Linked DNA regions of Homo sapiens: regions 2 and 3 are each linked to region 1. Evidence: fine-mapped expression QTL. A gene starts in region 1. Each other region holds a variant in brackets. All regions are shown on one strand. Distances are between the middles of the regions.

Evidence for each region.
Region 2: its variant is fine-mapped to the expression of ATP6V1B2 in whole blood (TOPMed, PIP above 0.99).
Region 3: its variant is fine-mapped to the expression of ATP6V1B2 in whole blood (TOPMed, PIP above 0.99).

The regions. Positions count from the first base shown.
Region 1 is chr8:20,191,147-20,201,819 of GRCh38, reverse strand. ATP6V1B2 (ATPase H+ transporting V1 subunit B2) reads right to left here and starts at 4,439. Exons shown (of 14, transcript NM_001693.4): 1 at 4,278-4,439. The coding sequence starts at 4,413. RefSeq lists a silencer at 4,386-4,665.
Region 2 is chr8:19,695,343-19,706,015 of GRCh38, reverse strand. All of the region lies in intron 1 of CSGALNACT1 (chondroitin sulfate N-acetylgalactosaminyltransferase 1), which reads left to right. Among named protein-coding and RNA genes, the nearest start is that of CSGALNACT1-AS1, 22 kb to the right of the region's middle. The variant G/T (reference allele first, on the strand shown) is at 6,537.
Region 3 is chr8:20,164,469-20,175,141 of GRCh38, reverse strand. SLC18A1 (solute carrier family 18 member A1) reads left to right here. Exons shown (of 16, transcript NM_003053.4): 5 at 698-781; 6 at 2,014-2,106; 7 at 3,648-3,737; 8 at 3,996-4,039; 9 at 10,035-10,095; 10 at 10,178-10,273. Among named protein-coding and RNA genes, the nearest start is that of SLC18A1, 13 kb to the left of the region's middle. RefSeq lists an enhancer at 9,553-10,673. The variant A/C (reference allele first, on the strand shown) is at 6,125.

The sequences.
Region 1 (10,673 bases):
CAGACTCCAGAACTTTAAGAAATAAATTCCCTTTCTTTATAAATTACCCAGTTTCAGGTTTTCTGTTAAAAGGAGCAGAAAATGGCTAAGACAGTAGGCAAGGCTGATGCACCCTAAGGAAACTAAGGCCCTGATAAGTTTGTTTTTAAATGGGGGAGCCAGGCTTCTAACTGTTTTGTTTTTCTTTAATCTTAGGATTGGTACTCTATGACCCTTATAATATTTCTGGCCTTAGTCTTCAGTACAATTAAAAAGTATGGAGATCATACAGCTTCTAGCACTTGGACTACAAGTGGGGACAAAAAGACAATTTGTATAAAACTACAGCTCTTCTCCATGGTACTAAAACTATCTGCAAAGAAAACCAAGCAGAATGATAACAAACACTACCTTTTATCTCTAGATTTATCCAGCCTTCCTCACCATTACCATTAACAGCCCAAAACAGAGATACCAGTTTAAACTATGGCTGTCAAAGACATTAAGTTGCCCTTCAAAACAGGAAAAAACCCATTTGTAAATTACCTAAATATTTCTATTTACCTACATATTGACCACTCCTCTCCAAATGAAAAAGAATTTGAGCCCGTAGGTGTGTGAATGGGGGATAATCAGAACTTCTGACAACACAGAAGATATATGCTTATATTACCTTCTTAACATATTTTACAACCAAAATGTCTTGGCTTTGATTCTGAACTATCATATGAGCCAGACAAGTATTTATGAAGTAACATCTAAAACCCAAAATCTACACGGGTTTTAAGGAGCACATATTTTATCAGATGACATCCTCTTCCTCCTGCAGGATAGGATATTGCTCAACACTAGTAACACCATTTAATGATTACGAAATACTCAGAAAAAGTTGACAGCCATTGCATAATAAGTGTCCTAGTCTTTTAGCCTCTGCCTTATTAGCAAAACAAAAACCCAGAGCAATCATCTTCCCTTGTACAAGAAGAGTAGAGATCTGCATGATGAGCAGTGAGCACCTGAAGAAGAGGTTCTAGGAAAAAAGCAAGGAGAAGATTCCTATTTTGACTTTTTGCAGGGCTGGCTCTGCTTTATGATATAAGAAACTTAAGGCCAGTTGATCTAGGGTCTCAAGAAAAATGGAGATGACCAAATTCAAAATACATAGCACCCGAAAGCTCTATGTATGTTGTTGAATCTTTTCTTTTAAGAGAAAATCAAGTTTTCATTCCTTGTGACTTCAGAAATTCAACTAAAATGCTCAAGATAATTTCCTAATTTCAAGCCTGAATATGTTTTCCATTTCTTTTAAAAGTCCTATAATCTTGAAGCTATTTTTTAAAAGGATCTAATTTGTACAGTGGAACTGTCAACATTACTCCATTTCTTCATTCAAAAAACAAAGCTTTTTGAGTTTAAATGCAAGTTACACAATTACAAGGCACATTCTATGTGTCAGGCACTGTGCTAGGCAGTGGGGACACAAAAAGGATCTCTGACTTCTAAAGGTTCAGTGTGAAGCTTTAGGCTGGGCACAGCAGCTCACACCTGTAATCCCAGCACTTTGAGAGGCCATGGCGGGCGGATCTCTTGAGCTCAGGAGTTGTAGACCAGCCTGGGCAACATGGGGAAATCCCATCTCTACCAAAAATAAAAAATAAAAATTAAAAAAAATTAGCTGGACGTAGTGGTGTCCGTCTGTAGTCCCAGATACTTGAGAGGCTGAGGTGGGAGGATCGCTTGAGCCTGAGATGTGGAGGTTGCAGTGACCTGAGCTCACACCACTGCACTCCAGCCTAGGCAACAGAGTGAGACCCTGTCTCAACACACACACACACACACACACACAATAACTATAATTACATGTCCCCTTAAATGATAACATCAATCAATTCACAAAAAATTACAATCAATTTACAAAAATTAAGAGGTTGGCTGGGCGTGGTGGCTCATGCCTGTTATCCCAGCACTTTGGGAGGCCTAGGTAGGCGGATTGCCTGAGCTCAGGAGTTCGCCACCAGCCTGGGAAACACGGTGAAATCCCGTCTCTACTAAAATACAAAAAATTAGCCGGGCATGGCGGCGTGCGCCCGTAGTCCCAGCTACTCGAAAGGCTGACGCAGGAGAATTGCTCGAATCTGGAAGGCGGAGGTTGCAGCGAGCCTAGATCGCGCCACTCTGCACTCCAGCCTGGGTGACAGAGCGAGACTCCATCTCAAAAAAAAAAAAAAAAAAAAAACCCACAAAAATTAAGAGGTTAATCAATATTTACTCAGAAGCAATTAAAACTTTTGAGTAGAATAAAAAATATGGCAAAATAAGAAGATATTCAAATGCTGTTAGTTGTTAGCCTAAGTATGATATCATTTATGCTTTTTAGAATAACACGGATATATAAGTGAAACTCAACTCGACCGGGCATTTCAACTCCCTGCTCTGATTCCACCCATGTTCACAATCTATCCACTGAATTATTCGAGCAAGGAGTTTAAATGCAAGTTACACAATTACAAGACACATTCTATGTGTCAGGCACTGTGCTAGGCAGTGGGGACATAAAAAGGATCCCTGACATCTAACAGTTGAGTGTGAAGCCCTATGCTACAACAGTTTTGTCAAGAATAACGTCTGGAAAAATCCCTCAGCAACTGGGTAAGTACGTACAAACCATGGAGAAATCATATTCATCTCTCTTAAAGGTTTACAATCTTAATCATGGAGTACTCTTTAAACAACGTTATTTCAGTTGATATTCTCTGAATTGACACTGAATGATTAATTATATGGAAACTGACTACTGCACCTTTATAACCTTTTTTGAGAGGCACCACTAATGTCTATCTGTTCTACCCAAAGAAAGGCAATGCATACAAACGCAATTAATAAAAGAGAATTTGTAATTCGTAGGTATAAATTTATTGCCAAGGTTTGCATAAGAATGCAACATCTGCCGATTTCCTGAAGTAGCTACTTCAGCTCAGATAAGTCCCAACATACATTTTCTAATTCGAACAATTCCCAGTTACTGTAAAAGGCACATCTCAGCAATCCACCGAATCAAATGTTTTCCTTTTTCTTCACACTGCAGTGCTATCACATGACCCAGTGACAGATCAGGATGTGGATTAGTCAGGCTTCAGATCGCCCAGACTAACACCCTTCATCTGAAATCCTTTTTAATCAGTCGGCCACCTAGAGACAGACACTCTGGCAATTAACCAGTGAAAATGCAGTCTCACCACCTGGGGAAACATCATGTGCTTTTCCCAGTTTTTTAAAAAGTCTATTTCGAGGGCTCATTGCCAGTTCCGAAGAAAGCTGTGAAGAAGTTGGATGCTACACAACTGCATTCTCTAGTAATCAAGAACCATTTCTTTTGGAATTGCTGAGCTATCCACTTAAACCTAGTTCATTAAGGCCTTTTTATTTAAAAAATCACAACATTTAAACAAGCCTATGCACACACACCACCTATGGGCAAAGCCACCTGGCTTCCCCAAAGAACCCTGCACTCAACCAAGTTTGGTTAACTGGTCAGTAAATGAAGAGGCAACGGTAGAAAAAGGCCCAGCGAGAATTTAAGAACCTGGATTTTTAGTCCCTGCTCTGCCAATAATTAAGTGTCTGAAGCATGGCAAATCCTACCCCTTCCAGAACCTTAGGCTTCTCACCTGTAAAATGATAGGGTTGGACTGGATGACCTGCAAGGTACTTTTCAGCTCTAGCGTTCTCTGATATCTAGGTGTCCTTCTGCGGAGCAGCCCCTCCACCAAACACCAAGCCACATCTCCCTCTGGCTACTGGCCTGACCTCCATCCACGAAAGGCCTGACCACGTCAGCGAAGGCTCTACCGTCTGCCCTCCGCAGGAGTTGAAGACCCCATTGAGGTCCTCACCAGGGGGAGGGGAGAAGGGGCGTTCCCTCGACCCCTAGATATCCAAATGAAGTCAGGGGAAGATTAAGATCGGAGTGGCAAGAAGTGGCCCTCGGGGACGGGAAGCAAGTGCCTAAGAAGGCTCCAGCCTAGGGAAGCTGGGGAGGGGAGGGGGTAGGGCAACAGCCAGGAGCCCACCAACCCCAGGAAAAAGTTCCCGCTGGTGCTCTTGCCCTCAGCCCATCTCCTGGAAATATTAGGTACAGGCAAATCTCCTTCTAAAGAGACAAGTGGGTCAGGGTCGGAGGGGAGACGCGGGAGGGAAAAACAAATCCTACCCCCTACCCGCTGGCTAAGCAGGTGACTGGGAGCAAAGGGCTAGGCTAGGGAGCAAAGACCGGAGACGTATTACTCTCTGATACTCACTGAGGCGAGGCTGGGAGAGGTAGTTCCGACTGACTGCCAGCGCCTGCTCCCGAGCTCCCACCGCCGGCCCACCGGTGGGCACGGGTAGCTCGGGTGCGGCCCCGTTGACAATCCCCCGCATCGCCCGCAGCGCCATCTTGTCTCCTCTGTCCCGACTGGCCCAGCAGCGACGCCGCGCACGCGCAGATATACCAAGGCGGCCCGCGGCCCGAGGCTCCGCCTATGCGCGCTGCGGCGCCCCGGCCTCGCCCCGCCCCCTTCGCCGCCGGCCGCCCCCAGCCTCGTGACTTCGCGCCGCTGGGGCCAGACCTGCTTGCGAGCAAGAGGAGCTGACCAGCGTGCTGGGAGGCGCGCGCGGGCGCAGAGGGAAGGGAAGCGAAAGAGGGGAGATGGAAGGAGAGAGGAAAGCCAGCCGAAAGAGAGGCGCACAAGCGGAGTGAGGGGAGGAAGGCAAACGCGTGCAGGCCAACGTCAGCTGATATCCATTTCGAATGGGCTTTCGTGACGCTGAATGGAGAGAACTCAAGCTGTGAAAACCGCTTTGAAAAACAGAAGCAATGGAAAACATGTTTCAGTGATTATTAACACATGTGGCATCATTTAGTTCACTTTACTCCCTACCCAATTCGTTCACGCATGTATCCATTCGACAAACATATATTGGCTTGTTATAGGATGTGCGTAGCGGTGTGAAAAATAGGGGCAGATTTGGAAGCTGTGTAAGGGGTGGGACTAGTGTAGGATGACAGCCCAGGCTGGAGGCCGGAGCAATGGAATGGATTCTTCTTCTTCTTCTTCTTCTTCTTTTGAGAGGGAGTCTCATTCTGTCGCCCAGACTGGAGTGCAGTGGCGTAATCACGGCTTACTGCAACTTCCGCCTCCCGGGTTCAAGCGATTCTCCTGCTTCAGCCTCCTAAGTAGCTGGGATTACAGGTGCCCACCGCCACGCCCGGCTAATTTTTGTTTTTAGTAGAGACGAGGTTCTACCATGTTGGCCAGGCTGGTCGCGAACTCCTGACATCAATTGATCCCGCCGTCTTGGCATCCCAAAATGTTGGGATTACAGGCGTTAGCCACTGCACCCAGAAGATTATAATTTTTAAGTTTAACTAATGTCCAAAGTTGGCACGTGTAAAATTAAACAGGAATTGTAATACTTTACTGATAAGAGCACAATTGGTATGATATTTAGAAGAACAATTTGGTGATATCTCATTCAAATATTTTGGTACTAGGAACTTATCGTTCTCTCTCTCTGTAGATATATCTGTATCTATCTATCCACTCAGTGTATGTGACAAATATTTTCCATTATATATAATACATTACGTCATGCACCATATGGTATATATTATTATATATGGTCTACAGACATATACATGTATATATACATACACACAGATATTCAAAAAAAATTTTTGTAATAGCATAAACCTAGAAACAATCTAAATGCCCATTCATAAGTTATAGCCTATTAAGTCAAAGGTATTTCTCAAACTTTTGAAAAGAATTCAGTGGAGGCTCAAGGGTTGAGTTTTTTTTTTTAAAAAAAGTCCAAGACACATTATTAGGTTTAAAATAAAAAAGCAATTGCAAAATGCCATGTAAAGTAGATTAACATGTGAACAGTAGGAGAAATTTTATTTTTAATTTAATAATCTTTCTATGTAGTTTCACTGCTTTAACAGGTGTTTGTACTGATTTTTTCAAATACAATGCATAACAACTTTTTTAATAAAAATTACAAATCTAGTCTTCTCATGCCAATTTTTCACAATGGTAGGTAAATTTCATATGTGAATATCAGACTGTTAGTTGTTACAATTTTTATGTTATTCTTTTAGGAGTAGTTCATGGCTTTTACTTTAAAAAAAACCTGTTTTTAACTTTTTACTCTGGTAATAGAAATTAGTTGTGGTCTAATGTGTATACGTAGAGTGGTAACCCCAACATTTATTTAACAAACATCTGTTGAGAAAATGCACATGTGTATCGGGTGCTGATCTAAGTCCTGGAGATATATTTGTAAATAAACAAAGACTCTGTCATCCTGATACCTGTTGGAGGGAGAAAGTCAGAAAACAAACATGTAAATAAAGTGCCTGGTAGTGTCAAGTATGATGAAAAATAATAAAACAAGATAAAGAGAAAAGAGTGATCTAGACGAAGATAAGATTTTAGATGATGTGATCAGGGAATGCACTTCTCAGTCATCTGAGATCTGAATGGAGAGAGAAAGCAGATCATGGGAAGCTCTAAGAGATGTGTGGCATAGGCAGAGGGTTTTGCAAGTGCCAAGGTCCTGAGGCAGAAGAAGGAAAGTGGGGCTAGAATGGACACAGCTAAGCAGAGAGCAGCAGGAGAGAGGGCAGGGCCAGATCATGTACAGCTTTGGAGGCTATGCAGATAGCAGTTCGAATTATATTCTTAGAGTGATTGTAGAATTTTATGAAGGAGGAATATGATCTGATTAGGCTTTAAAGAGGCATGTTGTTCTACTGGGCAAAATATGAACTGGTGAAGAAGGCAAGAGAAAAATGGAGAGACCAGTTAGGAAGCTATTGTGATTGTCTGGGTGAGCAACATGGACTCAAACCAGATGATGGCTTTCCTACATAGCACGCTGGCCTTAGCTCTGTCACAGAGCTCATCGCAATAATGATATCATTAAAAAGTGGCCATTTATATCTTTCTCCTGCACTTTTCCATTCTGTAACCTCAGATATGGAATGGGGGATTGGCAAGGGGGATGTGGAGCACAGTGCAGCTGGGAGAAATATTTCAAATGAAAAAAACAATGATAGAGATAAGTCCAAGATTGCTGTAAAACAGGGATTATTAACTTGGCACCCTAGGAAGTCGGTGAAACGTTGTGCAAAATGTGTGCATATGGATATTTTCCGTGGAAATAACCCACAGATTTCTATCACATTGTCAAAGGAGCCTGAAACTCTTAAAGAAAACCACCAAGTAAGCATCACTGACAAATTGGGAGAGTGGTATTGCCATTTATGGAATCACAAGTGTTTAATCAAATTGCCACATGGTTGTGTCAGATAGTTGGTATCACTTGACACCGTCTCTAACTTCTCAGACAACTACATTTTTAAAAATTGTGTAATTTATTTGGATCTTACGATGGTACCTGTGCAAAGCGCAGGTAACCCAAAACTGTTAGTCAACTGAAATTCAGAGTTTCTTAGAATTATTTATAGCAATATTATATAAATGCTTTTCCTTGGGTTTAAAAAAATTATCCCCTTAATATGCAAGAAGGAAAAGGATAAATGAAGTGTTATATACATAGAAAAATACATTTAGGAAAATATAGAAAAGTTTTAGTTTCTCTAGTAATGAAGAAATTCAAACTAAGCATCACCGTTCCACCTTATCTGTTAAATTAAGAAAACTGAATGATTTTTTTTAAGTGTTGGCAGGATTCGGGGCTAAGTGTCGCACCAGCTCATTTCTGATGACTTTGGAAATTGGCCAGACCTTCTGCAAAGCAACCTGGTATAGGTTAGGGATCATAAACTTGTTCACGCACTTTGATCCAATAATTTGATTCCATGATCTCAATGATATGATTATTAACCAAAGGAATAAATGTTTATAGCTTGTTATGGCAATGCTATTCATCAGAGTGAAAGTGAAATAGTAACCTAAATATCCCATAATAGTAAACTGCACCAGTAGTGTATATTTAATAGATACTGACATGAATATGATATATAGCTGGTGGAATTCAAGTATTTGAACTCTTTATACCAAATAATATTGAGTGAAAGCTTAGCACAGATATAGACCAGTTGCAGTAGTGTAGAACATGTTTGTACATTGGTAAAAAGCAGGAAATTGTGCATTGATGCCAATAATTGATGCTGCAATTTGGAGAGAAAAATCTTTTTCTCTTCTGAAATGTGTATTAAATATCCAAAAGTCACATATACTCACACAGAGAGAGTATCAGCTGGAGGTGGGGGGGCTTGCACAGTTTTAAGGGTAAGAGGTGCTAAAACAAACTAAATATGGCCCGAGAAGGACTCTGTACTTCTATATTTGAGTCCTTGTGGATGAACTGCAACCTAACTTAATAGGTAGACAAAATTGAAAACCTAACTAGGAGTTTGCGCCTGTAACAGTAGCTGAGTCTTGGCCCATCCCAGCAGTGGTACTTCAGCTACTCATACACTGCTGAGTGTTCAAACTGTGTTCAAATAAGGCAAACACTGAGCTGTAACCAATCTAGCTCTATCTGTGCTTCACTTCTGATTTCTGTAGGTCACTTCCCTTTTTTATCTATAAATTTGTTCTGACCACGAGGCATCCCTGGAGTCTCTCTGAATCTGCTGTGATTCTGGGGGCTGCCTGATTCACAAATCATTCACTGCTCAATTAAACACCTTTAAATTTAATTCAGCTGAAGTTTTTCTTCTATCAGGGGCTTGGGGCATGGACTCTGAGGTCAGACAGACTTAGTTTAAGTCCTGAGTTGATTAGTTCTATGACTTTGAACAAAATTTATTCTCTCTAATCCTCACTTTTCTAGTTTATAAAATGAGAATAATATTATCTTCATAAAATTATTGTATTAAAAGAGATAATGCAAAGTATTTGGCAAATAGCAAAGGCTAGATATGGCTTAGCTAACATTATTATTACATGCTTTGATTTATTGATTAACAGAATATTTATGTGTTAATTAATATGTGTCAGGCTCTTCTTTTTTTTTTTTTTTTTTTTAGACGTATTCTTGCTCTTGTCAGCCAGGGTGGAGTACAATGGCATGATCTCGGCTCACTGCCATCTGCGCCTCCTGGGTTCAAGCGATTTTCCTGCCTCAGCCTGCCGAGTAACTGGGATTACAGGTGCCTGCCACCACCCAGCTAATTTTTGTATTTTTAGTAGAGACGGGGTTTCACCATGTTGGCCAGGCTGGTCTTGAACTCCTGACCTCGCGATCCGCTCACCTCAGCCTCCCAAAGTGCTGGAATTACAGGTGTGAGCCACCATGCCTGGCTGTGTCAGGCTCTTTTCTAAGAAAGAAATGATATGGCTCCTGGACTAGTTGAGTAGTTTGTATTAAGCAGCGACTGTATCTTATCATTTTCTTGTCTTCTATCTAAAGTACCTAGCAAGGTAACTTACACATAGTACTTAGTAAATATCTATTAGATAAATGAAAATGTGTTGCTTTTTTCTTAAAAATGAACAGTTGTCCACCAATCTTATTCTTCCATACGGAGGGTTCCCCGCCCCCCGCCAAGGAAGAGTCATCCTACAGATATTGTATACTGGCTATTGTCCTCCTGTTATTTGCTGAAACCATATCCTTGTTTTACTTCCAAGGAATGCAAAAATCCCAGGAATTCCCCAGCAGTAGGGAATGTGGTCAAAACATGAGACTCAGAATCACCAGCCCAGTTTCAGTGCTGACTGTCTCCTTATGCACAGTGTAACCTTGGGCCAATCCTCAACTCCTTCTGTCTTTGAATCTCCATCTGTGAGTTGGGAAGATTTCATGTCATGCCGGCTTCTCAAGAATTTAAAAAGAAGCTTCCAGAAATCAACATCTTAGATAGAAAGGCAAACTCTTATTCTTTTATTACAAATGATTATTGGGGAAGAAAAATAGAGAAGAAAGGGGTAAGAAAATCTCATGCCAGTGACTGATTTTTTTCCAGATAATGTGTATCTCTCTTTATTTGCTGGAAAATTCTAATCAAGGAAAATACTATGAAGACAAACCACAACAGATTAAATAAACAGACCTATGTGTTTCTATGTAGCAAGGCATATACCAATATAAAATCATCAGTACAACATTTTCAGCATAAGATGGGAGAGGAAGCTAATTAATTATTTATATATTTTATTATTGGTTTTTTTTGCTTTTGTTTTTGTTTTTTTTGTTTGTTTTTTTCAGTCAGAGTCTTGCTCTGTCGCCCAGGCTGGAGTGCAGTGGCATGATCTCAGCTCACTGCAACCTCCACCTCCCGGGTTCAAGCGATTGTCATGCTTCAGTCTCCTTAGTAGCTGGGATTATAGGTGCCCACCACCACACCCAGCTAATTTTTGTATTTTTGGTAGAGACAGGGTTTCTCCCTGTTGGCCAGGCTGGTCTCCAAATGCTGATCTCAGGTGATCCACCCACCTCAGCCTCCCAAAGTGCTGGGAATACAGACGTGAGTCACCGCACCTGGCTGTGTTGGCTGTTTTTAAATTCTGACCATCTGAGGCAGAGTGAGGTGTATAGGCTGGAAACTGTACTTTGACCTCCTAAAACTGAGATCTCTGGTTTTCTTCCATATCCCATATTACTTTCCTTGTCACTGGGGTCACAGATGTGTTGTCCAATAGAGGGGAAAGAGCAGAGGGTGCCCTATGATCAGAACA
Region 2 (10,673 bases), 500 kb after region 1:
CAGATTTTTTTGCCTTTGTCTTCATGTTGGAGGGGAGGTTCGGGGATTCAGATAATCAAGTAATACAAGGTAATTGAAGATAATCGAGGAAATGAAAGAAAATGAAAATTAGTCGTGCCCTGTCATTCGATTATTCAGCTTTAACTAGCATCAACATTCTGGAATGTTGCTTTACTTTTATGTTTATGGTTGTATTTATATATTAAACATCTATTCATAATATGTCATGTACAATTTTTGAAACTCTAGCCTTACATTTTTTTCTCTGGATTTTTTTTTGAGACTGGGTCTCGCTCTGTTGCCTAGGCTGGAGTGAAGTAGTGCGATCTCAGCTCACTGCAGCCTCCCCCTCCCCGGCTCAGGCAATCCTCCCACCTCAGGCTTCCGAGTAGTTGGGACTATGGGCATGCACCACCATGCCCGGCTAATTTTTTGTATTTTTTGTAGAGATGGTGTTTCATCATATTGCCTAAGCTGGTCTTGAGCTCCTGGGCTTAAGCCTCCTGCCTCCTGCCTCAGCCTCCCAAAGTGTTAGGATTACAAGTATGAGCCACTGTGCCCAGCCTTCCCTGGATTTTAAAATTCAAATGATGAGCTTTTTCCTTCTAAATATTATTCAAAAACATGTCATTGAATGGATGCATAAAAATGCATTAGAAAATAATTATTGAACATTTAAATTGTTTCCAGTTTTTCCCTGAGTTAATGGAATTCTTGATGTAAGTCTTTGCATAAATAGCTACCCTTGAGTTACTATCCTTAAGGTAGAATTACTGATTTACTTTCTATTTGTTTTTCCCCCAAGTTTATTGAAGTATAATTGGCAAAAATTACATACAGTTAAGGTGTACAATGTGATGCTTTGGTATATGTTGTGAAATGATTACCATAATCAAGCTAATTATCACCTCACATAGTACCTTTTTGTGGTGCAAATACTTAAGATCTACCCTCTTAGCACATTTTAAGTGGGCAATACGTGTATTAACTACAGTCACTATGATGTAGGTTACCAGAACTTATTCATCTTGTAATGGAAAGTTTGCATCATTTAAGCAAAATCTCCCCATTTCCCAACTCTGTTTTCACACAGTAACTACCCTTTTAGTCTGTTTGAGTTCAACTTTTAAAACTTCCATATTGAAATGAGATTGAGCAATGTTTTTCTTTCCATGTCTAGGTTGTTTCACTTAGCATAATGTCCTCCAGGTTCATCCTTGTTATCACAAATGGCAGGATTTTCTACTTTTTTAAGGTAAATAATATTCTGTTTTATGTATATATCACATTTTCTCCATCCATCCATCCATTTATCCACCCATCCATCCATCCATCCGTCTATGGGTACTTAAATTGTTTCCATATCTTATTGTGAATAATGCTGCAGTGAAAATAGTGCAGGTATCTCTTTGAAAAAGTGATTTTATTTCCTTGTGTATATACCCAGAAGTGAGAGTGCTGGATCATAGAGTAGTTCCATTTTTAATTTTTGAAGAACCTCAATACTGTTTTCCATAATGGCTATACCAATTTACACTCCTATCAACAATGTATATGGATTCCCTTTTCTCCAAGTCCTCGACAACACTTGATATTTTTGACTTTTTCATCACAGCCATCTTAAGGTGTGAAGTGATAGATGACTGTGGTTTTGATATGCAAGAAATTTATTTTTAAAAAGTATTAATGGTACTTTGGAAAAATTCAAAATTTCTTCTCCATCTAACAATATAATATCGGCCTGGAAGGGTCTGTGATTCAAATGCCCTGTTACCTTTCTTCTTTCTCCTTTGGCAGCACATTCGTTTAGTGCCTTGTTTTTCCAGGGACTGGGGGAAATGGAAGAGAGGAAAGGAGGGAGAGAAGAGAATAAGAATGATCCATGTAATTATGTAATTAACCATCAAGCTTGGTTAATTCAGAGCATTCTCATTCTTTCATTCATTCAAAACTTTAAAAAGTAAGATCTCCCATGTGCAGTGTAGTGTGTTAGGCTTACTGAGTGGGGCTGGAAGAGCAAATCAGACATAGATGATACCCTCAAGGGTCTGACAGCTCTCAGGAAAGATGTCACTGCCAGATATGCACCCGTACTATGTAAGAGGCTCCTGAGAGCTGCGTGTAGGATAAGGGAGGAAAGCCAGTGCATGGGCAGTTTCCTAAAAAACACTGTTAATTGTAACGTACTTTGTAGAGAACTAAACTTAATCACAAAAATTACTTGGTGTAGAATATGTTGTTCTGAGTGAATGAATCTGATAACTTTGTATCAATCAGGGAGACATGCAGACCATGAGAGGATTTCTTGTATTGATTAAACTTTGTTTTACTGTGGAAGGTGCTGTGCAGTCAGTAGTAACCAACTCTCCAGTTACCTGAAGGTCTGAGGAGCACTAAAAACAAAGAGAGGGCTGGGCATGGTGGCTCACACCCACCGGTAATCCCAGCACTTTGGGAGGCCCAGGCGGGTGGATCATGAGGTCAGGAGATCAAGACCATCCTGGCTAACATGGTGAAAACCTGTCTGTACTAAAAATACAGAAAATTAGCCGGGCTTGGTGGCAGGTGCCTGTAGTCCCAGCTACTCAGGAGGCTGAGGCAGGAGAATGGCATGAACCTGGAAGGCAGAGCTTGCAGTGAGCTGAGATCCCGCCGCTGCACTCTAGCCTGGGTGACAGAGTGAGATGGCGTCTCAAAACCAACCAACCAACAAACCAAGAGAGGTCAGCCTGTTCTTATTATGTAACAACTTCGAGTGGCTCAAATCCCAAGTCACATGCCACGTCAATGGCTCCTTCTGAACAAGGGCTGAGCTGCCATGGGTCTAGTTGAGAAGGAAAAGCTCTCGATTTCAGGGTCTTGGGTTATTTTGGTAATAGATCAGAAGACAGTAGCATCCTATTGGAGGGACACTAGTGAGCACTTCCCAATGACCTCCCTTCTTCCCCTGCCTCAGACATCCATAGGGTTACAGGTTTCCCTTTTGAGCTTGAATTCTGTCCACGGTGATCATGTTGATCAGATGAGATATAAAGGGAAGTGAACCCACACCAGGAAGGGGGCTAAGAGGGGTGTAGGGGAAGAAGTGGATCTAGTCATTGGCCCTGGTCTAAGTGGGGGCTACTGGGTGGGGGGCTGGGCTACACTGATTCCCTTTAGGGGAGACCCTGAAACCCAGAGCTTTTCCTTCTGCACTAGATCCATGGCAGCTCAGCCCTTGTCCAGAAGGAGTCATTGACATGGTATGTGACTTGAGTCTTGAGGACGAGGTCTGGTATAGACACATGGAACTGGGTGATGGATGGGAGAAGATGGGTGTCTGGCCAACAGAGCAGTCTGTGACAAGGACTGAGATGGAGCATTCCAGGTGCATGCAGGGGACAACCAGTGCTTAGTTTGGCTGGAGGGTTTTGCTTGGGAAGGGGAGTGCTGGAAAGGTGGGAAAGGGCTGGGAGCAGATGCAGGTTGAAGAATTTGAATTTTAAAAAATTAATTAAGTTTTTTTTTAGAGACATAGACCCTGACACCTAAACTGGAGTGCAGTGGTGTGATTATAGCTCACTGCAGCCTTCAACTCCTGGGCTGAATTGATCCTCCAGCCTCAGCCTCCCAAGTAGCTGGGACTACAGGTGTATCCTCAACTAATATTTAAATTTTAATTTTATTGTAGAGATGAGGTCTCACTATGTTGCCCAGGCTGGTCTCAGAAGGAATCCTTCTGCCTCAGCCTCCCAAAGCATTGGGATTACAGGTGTGAGCCATTGCACCTGGCCCAGAGTTTGGCTCTAGGGATCCACTGAATACCTTTGGGAAGGGCTGTGAGGGGCTCAGAGCTCCACTGTAGAGAGATTCATCTTGCAATGGTGGTGTGATGGATGGTGAAGAGGAGGGATCAGAAACAAGGGCATCTGTTAGGAGGCTATAATGATGGTTCAAGCAGTATTTAATGTAACAGGTAGGCACTTATGAAGCCAATCAAATGTTTGCCAGACCTGTAAGAATCTCAGTTCCTAAAGGAAATAATTCTCAAATAAAGGAGCAATTTGGGGATGGCATATAATAAGAATTTTCATTAATGAATCAACAAAGCTGCTTTAAGATGAGTATATCTGTGTTTATTCATTTGTGCAGTGTATATTAGTTTGTTCTACTTGATATTATCATCTTGTAGTGGTTAAAAGCATGGATTCTGGAACCAGATTGAGTGGATTGAAAGTCGAGTCTTACCACTTATTAGCCACAAGATCTTGGGTAAATTACTTAAACTTTCTGGGCTTCAGTACGTGACATGTAGGATGCGCTGCATAGATATTAACATTGTCATCATCATTATCCTTGTGATCATCGTCATCATTATCCAGTAACATTTATTCATAACTTAATTGTCTATGTAGGGTCTTTTCAGGATCTTAGGTGTACCCCTGAGGAATTGCATTTGGCTAAGAGTGACAGACCTTCCACTGTGTGGTCTTAAACTCCAAGGGTTAATTTTCAGAACATAACAAGAAGACTGGAGGTACACAGTTGCTGGCACTGCTTTGGTGTCTTAAGATATCAGAGTAGGCTTGGTGCAGTGGCTCACACCTGTAATCCTAGCACTTGGGGAGGCCAAGGTGGGCAGATCACTCAAGGTCAGGAGTTTGAGGCCAGCCTGGCCAACATGGTGAAACCCCTTGTCTACTAAAAATACAAAAATTAGCTTGGTGTGGTGGCACATCTGTAATCCTAGCTAGCCAGGAGGCTGAGGCACGAGAATTACTTGAACCTGGGAGGCTGAAGTTGCAGTGCATGGAGATCACCCCACTGCACTCCAGCCTGGGCAACAGAGTGAGACTCTGTATCAAAAAAAAAAAAAAAAAAAACGGATAATAGATGAACTGAAATTTTCTTGGTCTCCTTCCTTCATGAACTCAAGATGATTGCTGCAGCTCCAGCCATCATTTCTGTCTTGATGGCATAAGAGGGAAGGGTGGAAGGTCAGAAAGGCACCTGCAAGCTGAATAAGCTCTCTTTACATTCCTTCCTGCAAACCCCACCTAAGGACTTCCACTGACATTTCATTGGCTATCCCTGTTTTCAGTGGATATTGGGAAAGGTAATTTCTCCAAAAATTTTGCCCCCTTCAAAAATACAAATGTTCTGTTACTAAGAGAAAGGGAAGGATGGATATGATATGGGAAACTAGGGGCTACTGCCACACTGCAGGAAAGTGACCTCAAGGGTTTCAAAGAATTTTATAGAGGTTGATTGCCTTTTCTTGGACAGACAGATTTTGGTGGTCTATTTGTTTCATTTTTAGCATATGTTAAGATTTGCCTTTAAGAAGTTTGTTCAAGAGAGGAAGGACAATTACAGAAAGAGATAGGAACATCGGATGTTTTCAGTTCAATCAATTGTAGGTGCAGGGATAGAGGGAGAGACTTGGTTCACATTCATAGATACCACCATGGATCATGCACTAAGTCCTCCCTGATTAATGGTGAGGAAGGCTGTGTCATACGGTCCGTATCCTTTCTATCATATTTTCACCCATAACTACTTTGTCAATAATATAAAAACACCTTAGTACCATTATGAGAGGCATAAAAGGAAGGCTATTAGCCTGATTTTGTAGATAGGAAAGATCACTGGGCCAGGTTTATTAATAAGGAAGGACACCATGGCAACACATTATAATGACTTCCTAACCTCAAGTCACAGTCGAAGTTGAAAGCAAACCTGTGAGTGCTGTCTAGGAAGATCACACACCCGGAAATAGGAGGTTTGGTTTCTAGGCCCAGGTCTGCAGTAAACAATTTATATTACTAAAAAAAAAACCTGACTTAACATCATTGTGCCTTATTTCTTATTTTAAAATGGGAAATAATACTTACCTAAGTTTTTTTTTTTCTTTTTTTTTTTTTTGAGACGGAGTCTCACTCTGTTACCCAGGCTGGAGTGCAGTGGTGTGATCTCAGCTCACTGCAACCTCTGTCTCCTGGGTTCAAGTGATTCTCCTGCCTCAGCCTCCTGAGTAGCTGGGACTACAGGCACGCGCCACCATGCCCAGCTAAGTTTTGTATTTTTTAGTAGAGACAGGGTTTCATCATGTTGGCCAGGCTGGTCTCAAACTCCTGACTTCGTGATCTGTCCCCTCTTCGGCCTCCCAGAGGGCTGGGATTACAGGCTGAGCCACCGTGCCCAGCCCCTAAGTTCTTTTAAAAATTTTGATGAAATACACTGAACATAAAATTTACAGTGTTAACAGTGTTTAAGTGTACAATTCAGTGGCAATAGGTAGATTCACATTCTTTTGTAACCATCACTGCCATCCATTTCTAGAACTCTTCATCTTGCAAAATTGAAACTGTACCCATTAAACAAGAACTCCTGTTCCTCATTAACCATCTCCTGGCAACTGTAATTTTACTTTCTAGCTCAATGGACCTGACTACTTCAGGGACCTCATGTGAGTAACATCATATAATTTTTGCCCTTTAGTGATGGGCTTATTTTACTCAGCATCAGATCCTCATGGTTCACTTGTGTTATAGCTT[G/T]TTTCCAAATTTCCTTCCTTTTTAAGGCTGAGTAATATTCCACTTCATGATCAGAGCATTTTATGTATCTCTTCATTTGTTGATGGACAGTTGGGTTGTTTCCACCTTTTGGCTGTTGCAAATAATGCTACTATGAACATGGGTGTACAGAAATCTCTTTGAGATCCTGCTTTCAATTCTTTTGGGTATACACTTGGCCTTGTGGGTTCTGCATCTGTGGATTCAACCAACTGTGACCTGAAAATATTTGAAAAAATAAAACAAGAAAAATAGCAATGAGTCATTAAAAAACTAAAAATAAAAAACGAGGCTGGGCGCGGTGGCTCATGCCTGTAGTCCCAGCATGGGAGGCAAAGGCAGGCAGATTGCTTGAGTTTGAGACCAGACTGGGTAACATAGTGAGACCTCATCTCAAAAAAACAAAGCAAAAAAAAGAAAAAAAGAAAAAAGCAATACACTGCAACAATTATTTACATAGCCTTTACATTGCGTCAGGTATTATGAGTAATCTAGAGATGTTTAAAAAATAAGGGAGGATGTTCCTAGGTCACATGCAAATCCTATGGCATTTTATGGAAGAGACTTGTGCATTCAAGGATTTTGGTATCTGTGGGGAGTCCTGGAACCAGTCCCCCATAGATAATGAGGGATGATTGTATACTTAGAAGCAAAATTGCTGGATCATATGGTAAATCAATGATTTTTTTTTGTGGGTTATCCATTCTCTTTTCCATAGCAGCTGCACCATTTTGCATTCCTACCGGTGATTCACAAGAATTCCAATTTCTCCACATCTTTGCTAACACTTGTTATTTTCTGATCTTAAAAAAATAGTAGCCATCCTACTAAGTGTGAGGTACATAGGTAAGTTTTAAAGCAGTATCAGTAGTGCCTCCAGATTAACTTCTTTGAGAATCACTGCTCCTCTGCTTAATTCTTCGGCCTTATTGGGCAAGTTACCTTAGCCTGTGAGCCTCCGTGTCCTCTTCTGTACAATGTAAATGTCTGTAAAAAACAATTGTTATGGGTATTAATGAGATAGTAGCTTGTGCTATGTGCTTATTCAAATATTAGTTTATTTTCCCATGAGAGCAAAAGCATGAACAAGTGTGCATCGTATTCATAGTTAATATTCTCAATGTTCACAGCTGTTGGTTTCCTCCCATATCCTAACCCCAAACACAATGTTTCCAAAGTGTATGATGGAAAGAGCGTTGGTTCTGGGGCCAGAAGGCAAGGAACTGAAATCCAGCTTTCTGACTTTCTGGTTGAGGGACCTTGGACAAATTTCTTATTTTTTAAAAATCTGTATGAAGAGCATATCAAGGGGACCTCATGGGACTGCTTTGTCCAGTGACTTCTCCCTGCTTCCCCAGCAGCCTTCTCACTTCCCATTCACTCTTCAGCCCCCGCAGTGGAGCTCCCATGAATAACACTGTGACCCTTCTCACCATGACTTTCTAATTGACAAATCCGAGGATGCACTTACTTAACTTTTTGGCAGCATTTCAGTGTTTACTTCTCTATTCTTGATCTTCCTCCTTGCTTCCTGGGACACCATCTCTTTCCCCTTTCAATAGCTCTCTTTTGCAGTCGTATTTCTCACCCTCTTCTAATTCACGTTACCCTCTCTGGGTGGGACGTTACCCACCACCTCTCTCTAATGACCTTCCAATCTCTGTTTCTAGGCCTCTTTTTCTGAACTCCAGAGTCCTGTTTACCACTGCCTCTTGAGCTCCTTCAAGTCCACATGTCCCACAGTGGACTCATTGCCTCTGACTCTGCTCGGTCCCAGCAAGGGCCCTGAAGCCGCTGGACCCATAGCATGGAGCTTGCTGGGTACCTTGTACAGGGGGGCTCTGGGCTACTCACTCCCTCACTCCCCAGGTAGCATTTGGTCCAGTCTCTAGATTTTTCCAGCCATTTATCTTGCTTTTCTTCTGTTTTAGCTCTGCCCGGCCCTGAGATTTGGTGCCCAGTCATCTTACAAGGGTAGTGGCCAGACTTTCCCCAGGTGCTAATGTGACTTGTGGTTCTGTCTGGACATTTTCCCTGAACAGCCCCGTACTGTTCTTCTGCCTGAATTTCCATCATGATCAACCCCACTGTTCATCATCTGCCAAAGCCATAGACCTGGATGTCATTCTGGACTCCTTCTTGACCCTCTTGCTTGCAACCCTCAGTTCAGGGTCAGTAAGACCATGAAACTGCCTCTATGGCTCCCAAGTGCTTGCCTCTGATGTGTCTTCACTACCATTTTTCCTCTTCATGGTGGTCATCTCTCTCCATTGCTATTGCCTCTTATTTGGTCTCTTTGTCTCCATCCTTGCCTCTTTCTGGCCATCCTCCACTCTCCTGCTAGATCTGACAATGCTCTTACCTACTTGAAACTCACACTTCCCGTTCTTGTGGGAATAAAGGAGAAATTCCTATGGATGGCACACACAGGCCCTCTGCCATCTGTCCTTACCATCTTTACCTCCTGCCTTGCAACCCCTCACATGTCACTTTTGAGCTACACCAAATCACGTGGGGTTGCTTTTCATGCTAGTATTCATTGGCATGCACTGTTTTCTGCCTGGGAGGCTCTGCCTATACTTGTCTTTCTGGGAAATGCCCACTCAGCGTTTAAGATTCAGCACCATCTAAGCTTTCTCTGTAACAGTGAGAACAGTCGACACTGTGTGTGGTTCCTGTGTACCGACCCCCATTCTAGATGCCCCACATGAACTTGTGTGCTGAAGCCTTGCAACAGCCCTGTGTGGTACCTGTAGGTAGGCACCATTACTATCCCTCTCATTTAACAGTTGGGAAACTGAGGCATAGAGAGGCTGAATGTCTTGCTCGGAGTCACACAGCTAGCAAGTAGCAAGCTGCGGTCTGAAACTGGGGAGCCCCATTCTAGAGTTTGGGTTCATAACCACTGTAGCTACTGTGGTTTTTCAGCCACAGGTGGTTGCTTCCTCCTTGCACTTCCCTGCCCCCACTTCCCTTTATGTACATCTGCATCGTGGTGTTTCATATGCCCTGTTCCAATTATGTATTAAATGTTGTTCTCTCCTGCTAAACAGTGAGCCCCTTGAGGGAAGGCCTGCCTTTAATTCATGCTTATATCCCTGGAACGAAGAGTTGGTTGTTTTCAGTTGTTTGCATGACTTAAAAAAATATGACACACATTATCTTGCTTTACTGTAAGATGCTACAGTGGTGTTTGAGGCAAATTGCATAAAATGTAAGTTGGATTGGGGACAGAATCTTTTTCACATTGTCAAGTTCCCCAAAGTCCTGATGGCAGTAACCTAGACTGCTGGATGTCTAATTATTCATGATGTCCTGGAGAAAGGCAGAATTCAGCCATAGCCGTAAGCATTCCTGCCTATCCAATTTGTTTTTAAAAGACGATTTGTAGGACTATGTCTTCATACATGTTTTTGCTACTGGTCTTGGGTCTTTAAAGTTTTTAAAAATTTATATTCAGAGTGTTTTCCTGTTCATTTTTTATTTGATTAAGAAAGAACTATAAATAAACCTTAACAATACCATCGTTTTTCATGAGCGCTAATGGCTTTGTGACAGGATGATGGCTTGTGTAGTGTAGTGTTTGATTTTTTTTCTTCCTCCAATGTTGTTTGGCTGGATCATTTAGAAATATTACAAAATCTCCTGCGCTGAAGGAGAAAGCTTTTGACTCCTTTTTGACTCCACAAACTCTTAAACAACATGTGCATGATATCACATGAAAGCTTAGTAACTTTCGGAGGCCTTTCTAAATTACCCATGTTCCTTTGTCTTGACATTGTTGCTTTTCTCTTAAATTCACAATCTCTACTCCAATCTGCAGTACAGCCTCTAAAATGATGTTAGAAATCTAAACGCCATGTTTTTATTTCATCATGCTTTAATTTTACTTTGAATTAAAATATGCATTTCTTAGGTTATTTTCCTGGAGTCAATTGGAGCATTTTAGGCTTAGAAGGGATATTTGACAGTATTTAGTCCAACTTCCTTGTTATAGAAGGAAGAAGTTGAGGCCAGGAGAGAGATTGTGAAGTGCACTCTGGCCGCACAGCTAATTAGTGGCAGAGTAGAGATAAGACCCAGGATGAGACCCACAGGCTAAAATTTGCTATTTGAGTT
Region 3 (10,673 bases), 27 kb after region 1:
GATGACATATTCCTGTTGGATCTCAGTTTCCTGGGTGTCCATCTTCAACACACTGCCTCTCTTCACGGACAATAACTAGATGTTATTTTTATTTTGCATTTGCTACAGAGTCTAGCAGAGCTGCGCATTCAGTATAATTTAATACCTGCTGATTTTGTCTGGTTAAAAGATCGTTCAATATAAGATATAAAAAAGGATCTGATTGTATCACAAGATATTATTTTCTACCCAATTCCTATAATCCTCGAAGCACCTACTTACTGTCACTGTACTCCAGATGATCCTGTGGGACCCAGCAATGGTAAAGACCAGATCTGGATTTTGCACATGGACGATCCAGGAGTATGATCTAAGAACCAGTTTCCAGCCTAGGACACTGAGCTTCATGGACATCCCTCATTTCAGTGGACAGAATGTTGGGTTCTTGGCAAGAGATGTACAGACTCAGCCTTCCATCTGCTGTGTGGTGACTCGGTTTATACTTCTGTGGTTTCTCAGTTTTCTTGCCATTTAAATAGCAAAACTGAGGAGTGGGAGATTGAAAAGACAACTCAAAAAACAGGGAACAGTCATCATGCTTTATTAAAAACATATGCATCAAGACTCATATCTGCAGTATCACGGGCATGTTCTCTGGCGGCTGGGGAAGCAAAGGCAATTTGCTAACTGCAGTTATCTTGCTATTCTCTCTGCCCAGTGTTTGCTTTTTCTGGGACCTATACTCTACTCTTTGTGGCCCGAACCCTTCAAGGCATTGGATCTTCATTTTCATCTGTTGCAGGTAACACTGGCAACTCATCATGCACACACACATGCAGGCATGCACACACACACATCTCTTACTACCTCAGATCCTATATTTACATGGAGAAATTAAGGAAAATGTCACCTGGATAGGTAGAAATTGTGATTCAGAAATAAGGGAATTGGGCTGGGCACAGTGGCTCACACCTGTAACCCCTGCACTTTGGGAAGCCAAGGCAGGAGGATAGCTTGATTCTAGGAGTCTGAGACCAACCCGGGCAGCCTGGGCAACATAGTGAGAGCCCTATTTCTATTAAAAAAAAGAGAGAATAAGTTAGCCAGGCATGGTGGTGTGCACCTGTGGTCCCAGCTACTTGGGAGGCTAAAGTGGGAGGATGGCTTGAGCTTGGGTGGTCAAGGCTGCAGTGAGCCATGATTGTGCCTCTGCACTTCAGCCTGGGTGACAGAGCTAGACCCTAACTCAAAAAAAAAAAAAAAAAAAGAAAGGAATTACAGAGTTTCTAACAGGGTCCATAGATCTCTGAGCCTGACATAACTTCCTCTGCTAATATTCAGATGCAGCTAGCTCAGGTCAGAGCAAGCCTCCAGTGAAGCTATGAAGAAGGGCAGGCTTTCATTTAGTGCCACTCTATGGTCCTTTTTCTGTCCCCCTCTTAGTACTTTATAGGAATAATCATGTTAGTACTACTGGTAACACCAGCACAGTTTTCAAAGTACTGGTGAATATAATATCTAATGCAATCTTATGAAGTTGGCATTTTATGCCATTTTACCCATAGCTATGAAGGCCAGAGGGTCCAGCTGCCGTACAGCACTAGCCCACACTTTCTTCCAGGTCTGCAGTGCTTTCCTGCTCTTCCCTGGGCACCCCTGTTAAATAGAATGGTCTCTGTGTGCCTAGATTTTCCTTTCCCTGATCTGCTCTGTAACCCCTCATTTTGGGAAATGTGCTAGGAAATGATAAAATGTTATGAAACATGGTATAATCAGACAATGGATTTTCTGTGTTATCCTTCCAGAGGGCTTGCACTATCAACAATATTCTGAACAGGAGTGGACAATGTGGGGGCTTGGGGGACTAGGGAGGGTAGTACTTGAAAAATACTACGGGTTAAGTTTTGTAAAACCCCTCAAACTGAAACTCTAGCTAAGATTGTCACTGAAGAGATAACAGGGTGGGACCAAGGGCTCTGAGAGGCGGATAGAAGCCCCCCAGGGGGCCAGCTGCATCTGTAACTCTCTGCGCAGGTCTTGGAATGCTGGCCAGTGTCTACACTGATGACCATGAGAGAGGACGAGCCATGGGAACTGCTCTGGGGGGCCTGGCCTTGGGGTTGCTGGGTAAGTGGCACCAGCTGGAGCTCTGGGTTCGGGAGGGTGGGACTCTAGGAAGCAGGTGTTCCCGAGGTGTAGAAGACGAGTATTTTCCTTCCCTTGTTGGCCTCATCCTATTTCAACTCCTTTAGAAATATCACTGAGAAAAGGTTAAATTTCCTTCTCCTTAAGAAGCTGGGAAACACATAAACGTCGGAGAAAGGTCCGGAAGCCCAGCCTGTTGGAGGAAGTGAGCCTCCCCGATTTAGAGGCCACTGCTTCGCCTCGGTTCCCATGCACACAGCACCAGAGCATGGCTGCTGCCAGATGCTCTGCTAAATCTGTTACACGCATAATCTCTTTTATTCCTCACCACCAGGAATGAAAGGAGGAATGATTTTCCCCATTATAGAGATGAAAATAAGAATGGCGAAAACACCATCCAACATCACACAGCTAGGAAACGCCACAGCCAGGATACAGACTCCGATTTTCTGGGCTTGGAAACCCAAGCCCCAAACGATAAAACTACCCTTTCTTTGAGGCTCCTCCCTCATACAACTTAATTGACAAGCTACATGCTTTCACTTATTACATGCCAAGCACAGTGCCAGTACTGTAGGGTGGGAAGCCCCAGGCATAGTTCCTGCCCTCTAGGAGCTTACAAGCTCATCGAAAACAAAACACCTGAAATTTCTTCCCCGGCCTATGCCCCACCCTCTAGCCCCATGGGAAGCAGAGGAAACAGAATCCCTGTTATTTGCTAGTATCCATCAACCCAAATGCCCAAGCTAAACCCTGTGCATCTTGAAATCCTTTATCATGTCCCAAATGAATAAGCTCCCAAATGAACAAGCTTGTTAGATCCTCAACAGCCACTCCTGGCTCCTTGTCACTTCTGGGTTAGAATCTGGCAGCATCCTCCCTCTTGTGTACTCCCTCCTTCCACCACGATGCTGCCTGAACAATCTTCCTGAGCCCAGAGCAGGTGATGTTTCTCACCTGATGTTTCTCCATAGGCCGCAAGGCCAAGTACATGACTCATCTGCATATACAAGGTTCCTGCATATGCAAGGCTCTACTTTTCTCCTCGCAAATATTCATACTCTGCTAACACCCGCTTTCTTCTTTTTCTTCTCCAACTACACACTCTTTTCTGACACCTCTGTGTTCTTCACACAAGCTTCTTCCCCTCCAGATACTCTACACTTGGCAAAGCCCTCGTGGCTGCCTGAAATTCCTGAGACATTGACTGTGCTTTCATTGCATGCAACATTTTACTGTCAAACTTTCACCATGCTTTAATTATCTGTGTCCCTCCCTACACACACACACACATACATACACACACGCGCGCGCACACACACACACACACACACACTTCCTCCACTAGAAAGTGGGCTTGATGGGGACAGGGATCATGTCTCCATCTCTGAATTCCCAGAGCCTCAGGTGGAGCTTAGCCCCTAGCAGGCCTTCTGCAAATGCTCACGGGGTAAATATGGATAATTCTCACTGCAAAGGACTCACCCTCACCTCTGGAATCTGTGTCTCCTATGCCTCTCCAGTGGGAGCTCCCTTTGGAAGTGTAATGTACGAGTTTGTTGGGAAGTCTGCACCCTTCCTCATCCTGGCCTTCCTGGCACTACTGGATGGAGGTAAGTCACCATCAGAGCCTCCAGCAGGTGACAGCCCAGGTCAGGTTGGGAATGCATTATGTTGTAGTGTCAGTCTTCACTAAGAATGGGCGGTTTGGACATGTTTTGATGGATCAAGGACTGCCCCGTTGTAGAAAAGAAAGAAGAAACTCAGGGAGTTAAATTTATGCATAATAGGGTGGTAGCACTACAGCTGTTATTGGAGCCCCCAGCTAATCAGTAGACACGCTGAACTGTCTCACCTTCTTTGTTTCTTAGCACTCCAGCTTTGCATCCTACAGCCTTCCAAAGTCTCTCCTGAGGTAAGCAGACACAAAGCTCCATTTCTAACAGTTATACAGGATGGCTGAATGCAGGAACCCAGGCATGCCTGCCAAACCATAAGAAGAAAAGTGAAGAGGAATAGGGTCAGCGAAAGTGAGAACTGTGTTTGGATTCCAGGATAGGGTTACGTTTCAGGTAGTGTGGGGGATAGTGACGTATTTGGCTTGATGTTGGACAAAGATGGTGGAAGAACCTTGTGCATAATCAAAGAAGCCATAGAGAATCTATCTATCTATCTATCTATATATTCGACACATATATGGGGTATGTATATATATATTCATGTATATCTGGAGATCTCCATATATATATATATATGTGCACACACACATGTAATTATAGCTAGGAGATAATGACATTGGGGACTGAGTATTTGGAGCTGTAACATCATCTCAGAGATGAAGGCTGTGGGGGCCACCTAGACAACATCTTCTGCAATAAAAGACATCCTGTGTGAATATCCCTAACTGTCATTCTGTCACAGTTAATAAATATCAGAGTTGGTACTTGTTTGACTCTAAGCCAAAAACAGCTCTGGAAAATCCATATCCCACCACGAAGGAAAAAAAGTAAGAAAGTGCATCAAGTGTAAAAATGTTTGATCTAAAGGCCTTGACTTTGCATTCCACAGCTTGTCAAGGTATTCCGGAAGTCATGACACTAACACCTCATCATTCTTCAGGGCTTTTCACGCACCAGGAGCTCAGCTTAGTGCGCCATCTATGCTGCATCTTACACATTCCATGAAATAAGTACAATTTTTAGCCTCACTCTACAGATAATGAAATCGAGGGTGAACAGAGAAGCATCTGAAAGAATTTGAAACTATGACATAATCAATACTTTTAGAGTGCCAATTCCCCCAGAGCAACTAGGAGCCTCCCGCAGTCTCCTGAGATGCTCTGCTCTTTACAGACTGGCTTTAGGAGTAGGATGTCTGGGTCCTGGAGAGGGAAGTCATAACCACCACCCATCCAGGACTCCTCAGGGCAAGGAGCACCAAATACCCTCTGCACAGGCTCCCAGGCCTGGCATATGCTTGGGCCCAGCACCCCTCCAGCCCTGGCCCAGGCGTAGGGACACTCATCCAGGTGGTTCAGCCACTGTTTATTATTAACTGTGCAGCAGTGGTGAATTACTCAGCAAGTAAATCCAGCTTGAGATTCCAGGAAAGTGAGGCACCCATAAATATCTACTTTTTTGAGACGGAGTCTTGCTCTGTCACCCAGGCTGGAGTACAGTGGGGCGATCTCGGCTCACTGCAACCTCTGCCTCCTAGGTTCAAATGATTCTCCTGTGTCAGCCTCCCAAGTAGCTGGGATTACAAGCACGCACCACCATGCCCAGCTAATTTTTATGTTTTTAGTAGAGACAGGATTTCACCATGTTGGCCAGGCTGGTCTCGAACTCCTGAGCTCAAGTGATCCATCCGCCTCAGCCTCCCAAAGTGCTGGGATTGTAGGCATGAGCCACCGCACCCAGCCCATTCTCTCTCTTTCTAACAAATATACATTATTATTATTATTACTAATGTTTTGAGCCAGTTGACAGTAGATTGATTGTATCGTTCCCTTACCCCTTGATACTTTAGAGCATTTTCCCTAAGAACAGGATTTTTTTTTATGTAATGTCAATGGAGCTATCAAATTCAGGAAATTTAACATGGATATAATACTTTAGTCTAATTTGCCGTGCCTACTCTGATTGTGTCAATTATTCCGATAATGTCTTCCATGGAAGTCTTTTTTTCTCTAATGCAAAGCCCAGTCCATGACTGTGTAAGACATTTATGCATCACACCTCTCTAGCCTCTTTTAATCTGGAAAAGTTCTCAGCCTTTATCTTTCATGACATTGACATTTGTGACAATTATCTATAGGGTATTCCTAAATTTGGTTTGTCTGATGTTTCTTCATGATACCGTAGCCTTCTGAGTTTCATGTCTGGAGGTATTTAATGCCCGTCGCCTCTCAGTGGTGATGTCCATTTTGATCACTGGGTCAAGGTGTTGTCTGGGTCTCTTGTGTAGTAATTACTTCTTCACCTTGTAACTAATATATAAC[A/C]TGTGGGAGATGTTGTAAAGTCATATAAATCTCCTACTCCTCCTTAAATTTCCTTTCTGCCTAGATTTGTTATCCATTGATGATTCTTGACTGACCCAATCTTTACTATAATGTTTACAAAATACTGGTTTTTCTAGTTCACCAATTCATCCAAATCATCAGTTGGCACTTTGCTGTAAGGAATAGCCATTCCTCCAAGGCAGGCGGATCACTTGAGACCAGGAGTTTGAGACCAGCCTGGCCAACATGGCAAAACCCTGTCTCTGCTAAAAGTACAAAAAAATTAGCTGGGCATGGTGGTGCACACCGTAATCCCAGCTACTCAGGAGGCTGAGGCAATAGAATCCCTTGAACCTAGGAGGCGGAGGTTGCAGTAAGCCACTGCACTCCAGCCTGGGTGACAAAGTAAGACTCTGTCTCAAAAAAAATACTCTAAAAAACAAAAAAGCAATAGCCATTCCTTTCTTACTCTCTTTATATGTATATATTTATAAATATTTATACCAAATAGGTATATAATAATTTTATGTACATGTGATTATGTTCACAAAAAACTTAAAAAACATTTATTTATCTGATATTATCAGTGTAGAATCATGGAGTCCTATTTTTGTAGTTCATCACTCTATTTACTTGTTTAATTTTTTTTTGGAGACAGGGCCTCTTTCTGTGACTGAGGCTGGAGTGTAGAGGTGTGATCATGGCTCACTGTAGCCTCCAACTCTTGGGTTCAAGTGACCCTCTTGCCTCAGCTTCTTGAGTAGCTGAGACTACACAGGCATGCCACCACACCCAGCTTAACTTTTTATAGAGACCGGGTCTGCCTGTGTTGCCCAGGCTGGCCTTGAACTCCTGGCCTCCCGTCCTTAATTATTTTGATGCTCAAATTGTCCTAGATTTGACAAGTCAAAGCCCATTAACTTGTTGCTGTGTCATTTTAACATACCTTCATTGTTTTTTGAGTAATGTTTTACTTTTCGATACAAAAATATGTCCTACGTTCATCTTGTACTTTCCCTGCCTCAGCCCTGAATTCATTTCCCCAAGGAGCCCAGGTTCTTGTTAGTAGGGAATGGTGTTTAGAAACCAAACTATGGGGCCGGGCACGGTGGTTCACGCCTGTAATCCCAGCAGTTTGGGAGGCCGAGGCAGGCGGATCATGAGGTCAGGAGATTGAGACCATCCTGGCTAACACAGTGAAATCCCGTCTCTACTAAAAATACAAAAAAATGAGCCAGGCGTGGCGGTGGGTGCCTGTAGTCCCAGCTACTCAGGAGGCTGAGGCAGGAGAATGGCATGAACCCAGGAGGAGGAGCTTGCAGTGAGCCAAGATCATGCCACTGCACTCCAGTCTGGGCTACAGAGCAAGACTCTGTCTCAAAAAAACAAAAAAAACAAAAAAAACAAAAAACTATGGGGACTCAATGTGCTCTTTGCCATTGGGGTCACCTTGTTTCCCTGCCATCTTGATGACAGAGCTAATACACACACACAAGTTTGTACTGAGACCTCCACTTCCAGCCCAACTCCACGGGATTTTTCCCTGCTTGCCCCATTCCATACATGTATTCTTCTTTCAAAGTAAGAAATTTGTCTCCCCCTATTATACAAATAGGTGAAACACCTATTTTACAAATAGATTAAAAAATTTACTTACTTGTATAATTCTATAATACTTACCCATGCCATTATAAAAAACAAAGCTACCAAGAAATATTCAAGACTTTTCAGTTCTTTTTCCCTTAGACTTAATGAATATAGCCAAATACTGTATCTAGAAATTACCGTACTTCCATTAGTTCTTTTTTCCACCTTTAGTGTGATTATGTAATGCATGATACATTTGAAATTCATTTGCATCCATTTGTGGGGTTTTTTTTTTTTGGCATTTAGTTTTAGTTTTTTTTCTCCATTCTGGCTAATTATCTTAGTCTGTTCAAGATGCCAGAACAAAATACTACAGATTGGGTAGCTTAAACAACACATATTTATTTTCTCACGACTCTGGAGGCTGAACGTCCATGGTCAAGGTACTGTTGAGGGTTGGTTTCTGGTGAGGCCTCTCTTCCTGGCTTGCAGACAGCCACCTTCTCAGTGCGTCCTCACATGGCCTTTACTCAGTGTGCATGCACAGAGGAAGAGAGCCCTGATGTCCCTTCCTCTTTTTATAAGGAAAACAGTTTTTCAGATTAGAGCCCCCACTCTTATGACCTCATTTAACCTTAATTACCTCCCTGAAGATACTGTCTCCAAACACAGTCATATTAGGTTAGGACTTCAACATACTAATTTGACTAAGGTGGGGGGACTCCATTCAGCCCATAACACTAATATAATTTATTTTTTTAATATATAGGACATTACCACCTAAAAGTCAAAATTATTCCAAAAGGTGTACTCAGAAAGTGTCAATCCCTCCAGTCTTTCTAACCCTCCCCCTCTCCCACCCCTACCACTCATAGGTAACCAATTTTAATGCCTTCTGGTTTGTCTTTCCTGTGTCTTAGTGTTTTTTCCTCAAAATAAATCGCTTATGTGTTTTCTTATTTTTCCCTTTTCTATTATATGAAAGGCAGCACACTATGTATTCTTTTTTTTGCGTTCTCCTTTTTTTCTCAATAATATGTCCTGAAAATTACTCTACTAGTTCACAGAATCTTTCCTTATTATTTTCCACCTGGTGGTGTATATATATATATATATATATATATATATATATATATATATAGACACACACACACCCACACACAATTTTGTATGTGTACACAATAGTGTGTGCGCCATATTTTATTCCATCTCCTATGTTTAGGTAGTTTTCAGTATTTTATAGTTATAAATAGTGCTGTAATTTGCATGACTGCATGTTTATAATGTTGTCATTAATCTTTAGAGTCAATTCCTAGAAGTGGGACTGTTGGGTCAAAGGGTTTATTGTACTTTTAAATGTATATTTTAATGATTTACATCAGTTTCTTTACTTCGAATAATAATTGGGTAAGCGAATGATCTCTTTAGTTTTAGGATCTCTAAATTTATCAATCCACTATTGTGTGTGTGCAGAGAGGGTTATCATACCAAAATGATCCAATCTATTACAAGATAGAAAGTAGTAAACACCATGAAGGATTAGGACATAGTGTTCAGGATGTCTGGAAGAGAGAGAAGCCCCAGCTACTGAGTCAGGGAGCTCTCTAGAAAAGAAGGAGCCATTTAAGCTTGACTTTAAAGAGTGGGTAGAACATGGAACTATGGAGAAGCTCAGAACGTGTAGTTTAGGCAAAGGCAATAATGATGGCTGAGGCACTGCTGGGATGCTTGGAAAGAGGGTGGGGCGACCAAGTTTAGATGAGAGTGTGTCCTGACGAGAGTGGGTCCTGGATGTTTAGGCTGTATTTTAACCCTGCTTCTTCTACCTTAGTTCAGTGTGGCTCAAAATGATCAGAATGAAGAATTCAGAAAGCTTGAGAGGCTTTCTGAGTTATGGCTTCTGTGCTTGCTTTTGGGATTCGGTGCTCTGCCTGTGGTTCTCCCAGGACAAATATTAGTACCAGGGAGATCTAGTGGAAACCAGGAGTCCAGACATCTATTGTCCAACCCTGACCTTGCTACCAATCCACTCTGACCTTGTTGATGGTCACGTGAACGCAGGAACCATGGCTGGAATATGTTGCTTCTCTATCTGTGACTATTACAGTGCCTACCTTTCACACAGGAGGGGTCCTGCCTCCAGCTTCCTCTGTGGCATCAGACAAGTCACTTTCTCTCCCTGTACTGGGGTTCCTGGTCTCTGCAGTAAAGGAGATACTGTAGATGGTCTCTAAGCCCATAATTGTACTTTCTCAGATTCTGTGAAAATAGGAGAGATGTATGCACTGTACAAATGGACATTTTTTGTTATCCATGTTCTCAGAGTGCCAAGGGGACTCCCCTCTTTATGCTTCTCAAAGACCCTTACATCCTGGTGGCTGCAGGTAAGCTGGCGATGACCTCCCATTGGGCGGGGAGTGTCTGGGCTTCAAGCAGCCACGGCTGCTCACAGAACAGTCTCCCCAGGGTCCATCTGCTTTGCCAACATGGGGGTGGCCATCCTGGAGCCCACACTGCCCATCTGGATGATGCAGACCATGTGCTCCCCCAAGTGGCAGCTGGGTAAGTGACCTCAGCACCCCCGCTCAGGGCCTGGCAGGAGGAGGTGGGTGCCATGAGTCCTTTCGTTCAATGTCACACAGGGACAACATGCTTCCTTTGTAGAATGACCTCCCACGTCCACACCCATGAATCAAGCCCAAGAGGGTGTGTGGTCCCTCAGAGAAGCAGTCTGAGAAAGGGGAGGGTGAGAGAGGATGAAAGGGGCTATGGAGAGGTCACATACCTAGCTGTGTAGTAGGATGATTAATGATTTCCAGTCCAAAGATTCAGGTTTTGGTTTCAGCTCCTTTGATTTTCTGTGAAAACTTGTGCAGATGCCTTAAACCCTCTGAGCATCACTTTTCTCATTGCTAAAATGAGCATCAAAATACTATCTAGTTCAAGAGAAATTGGATGAATA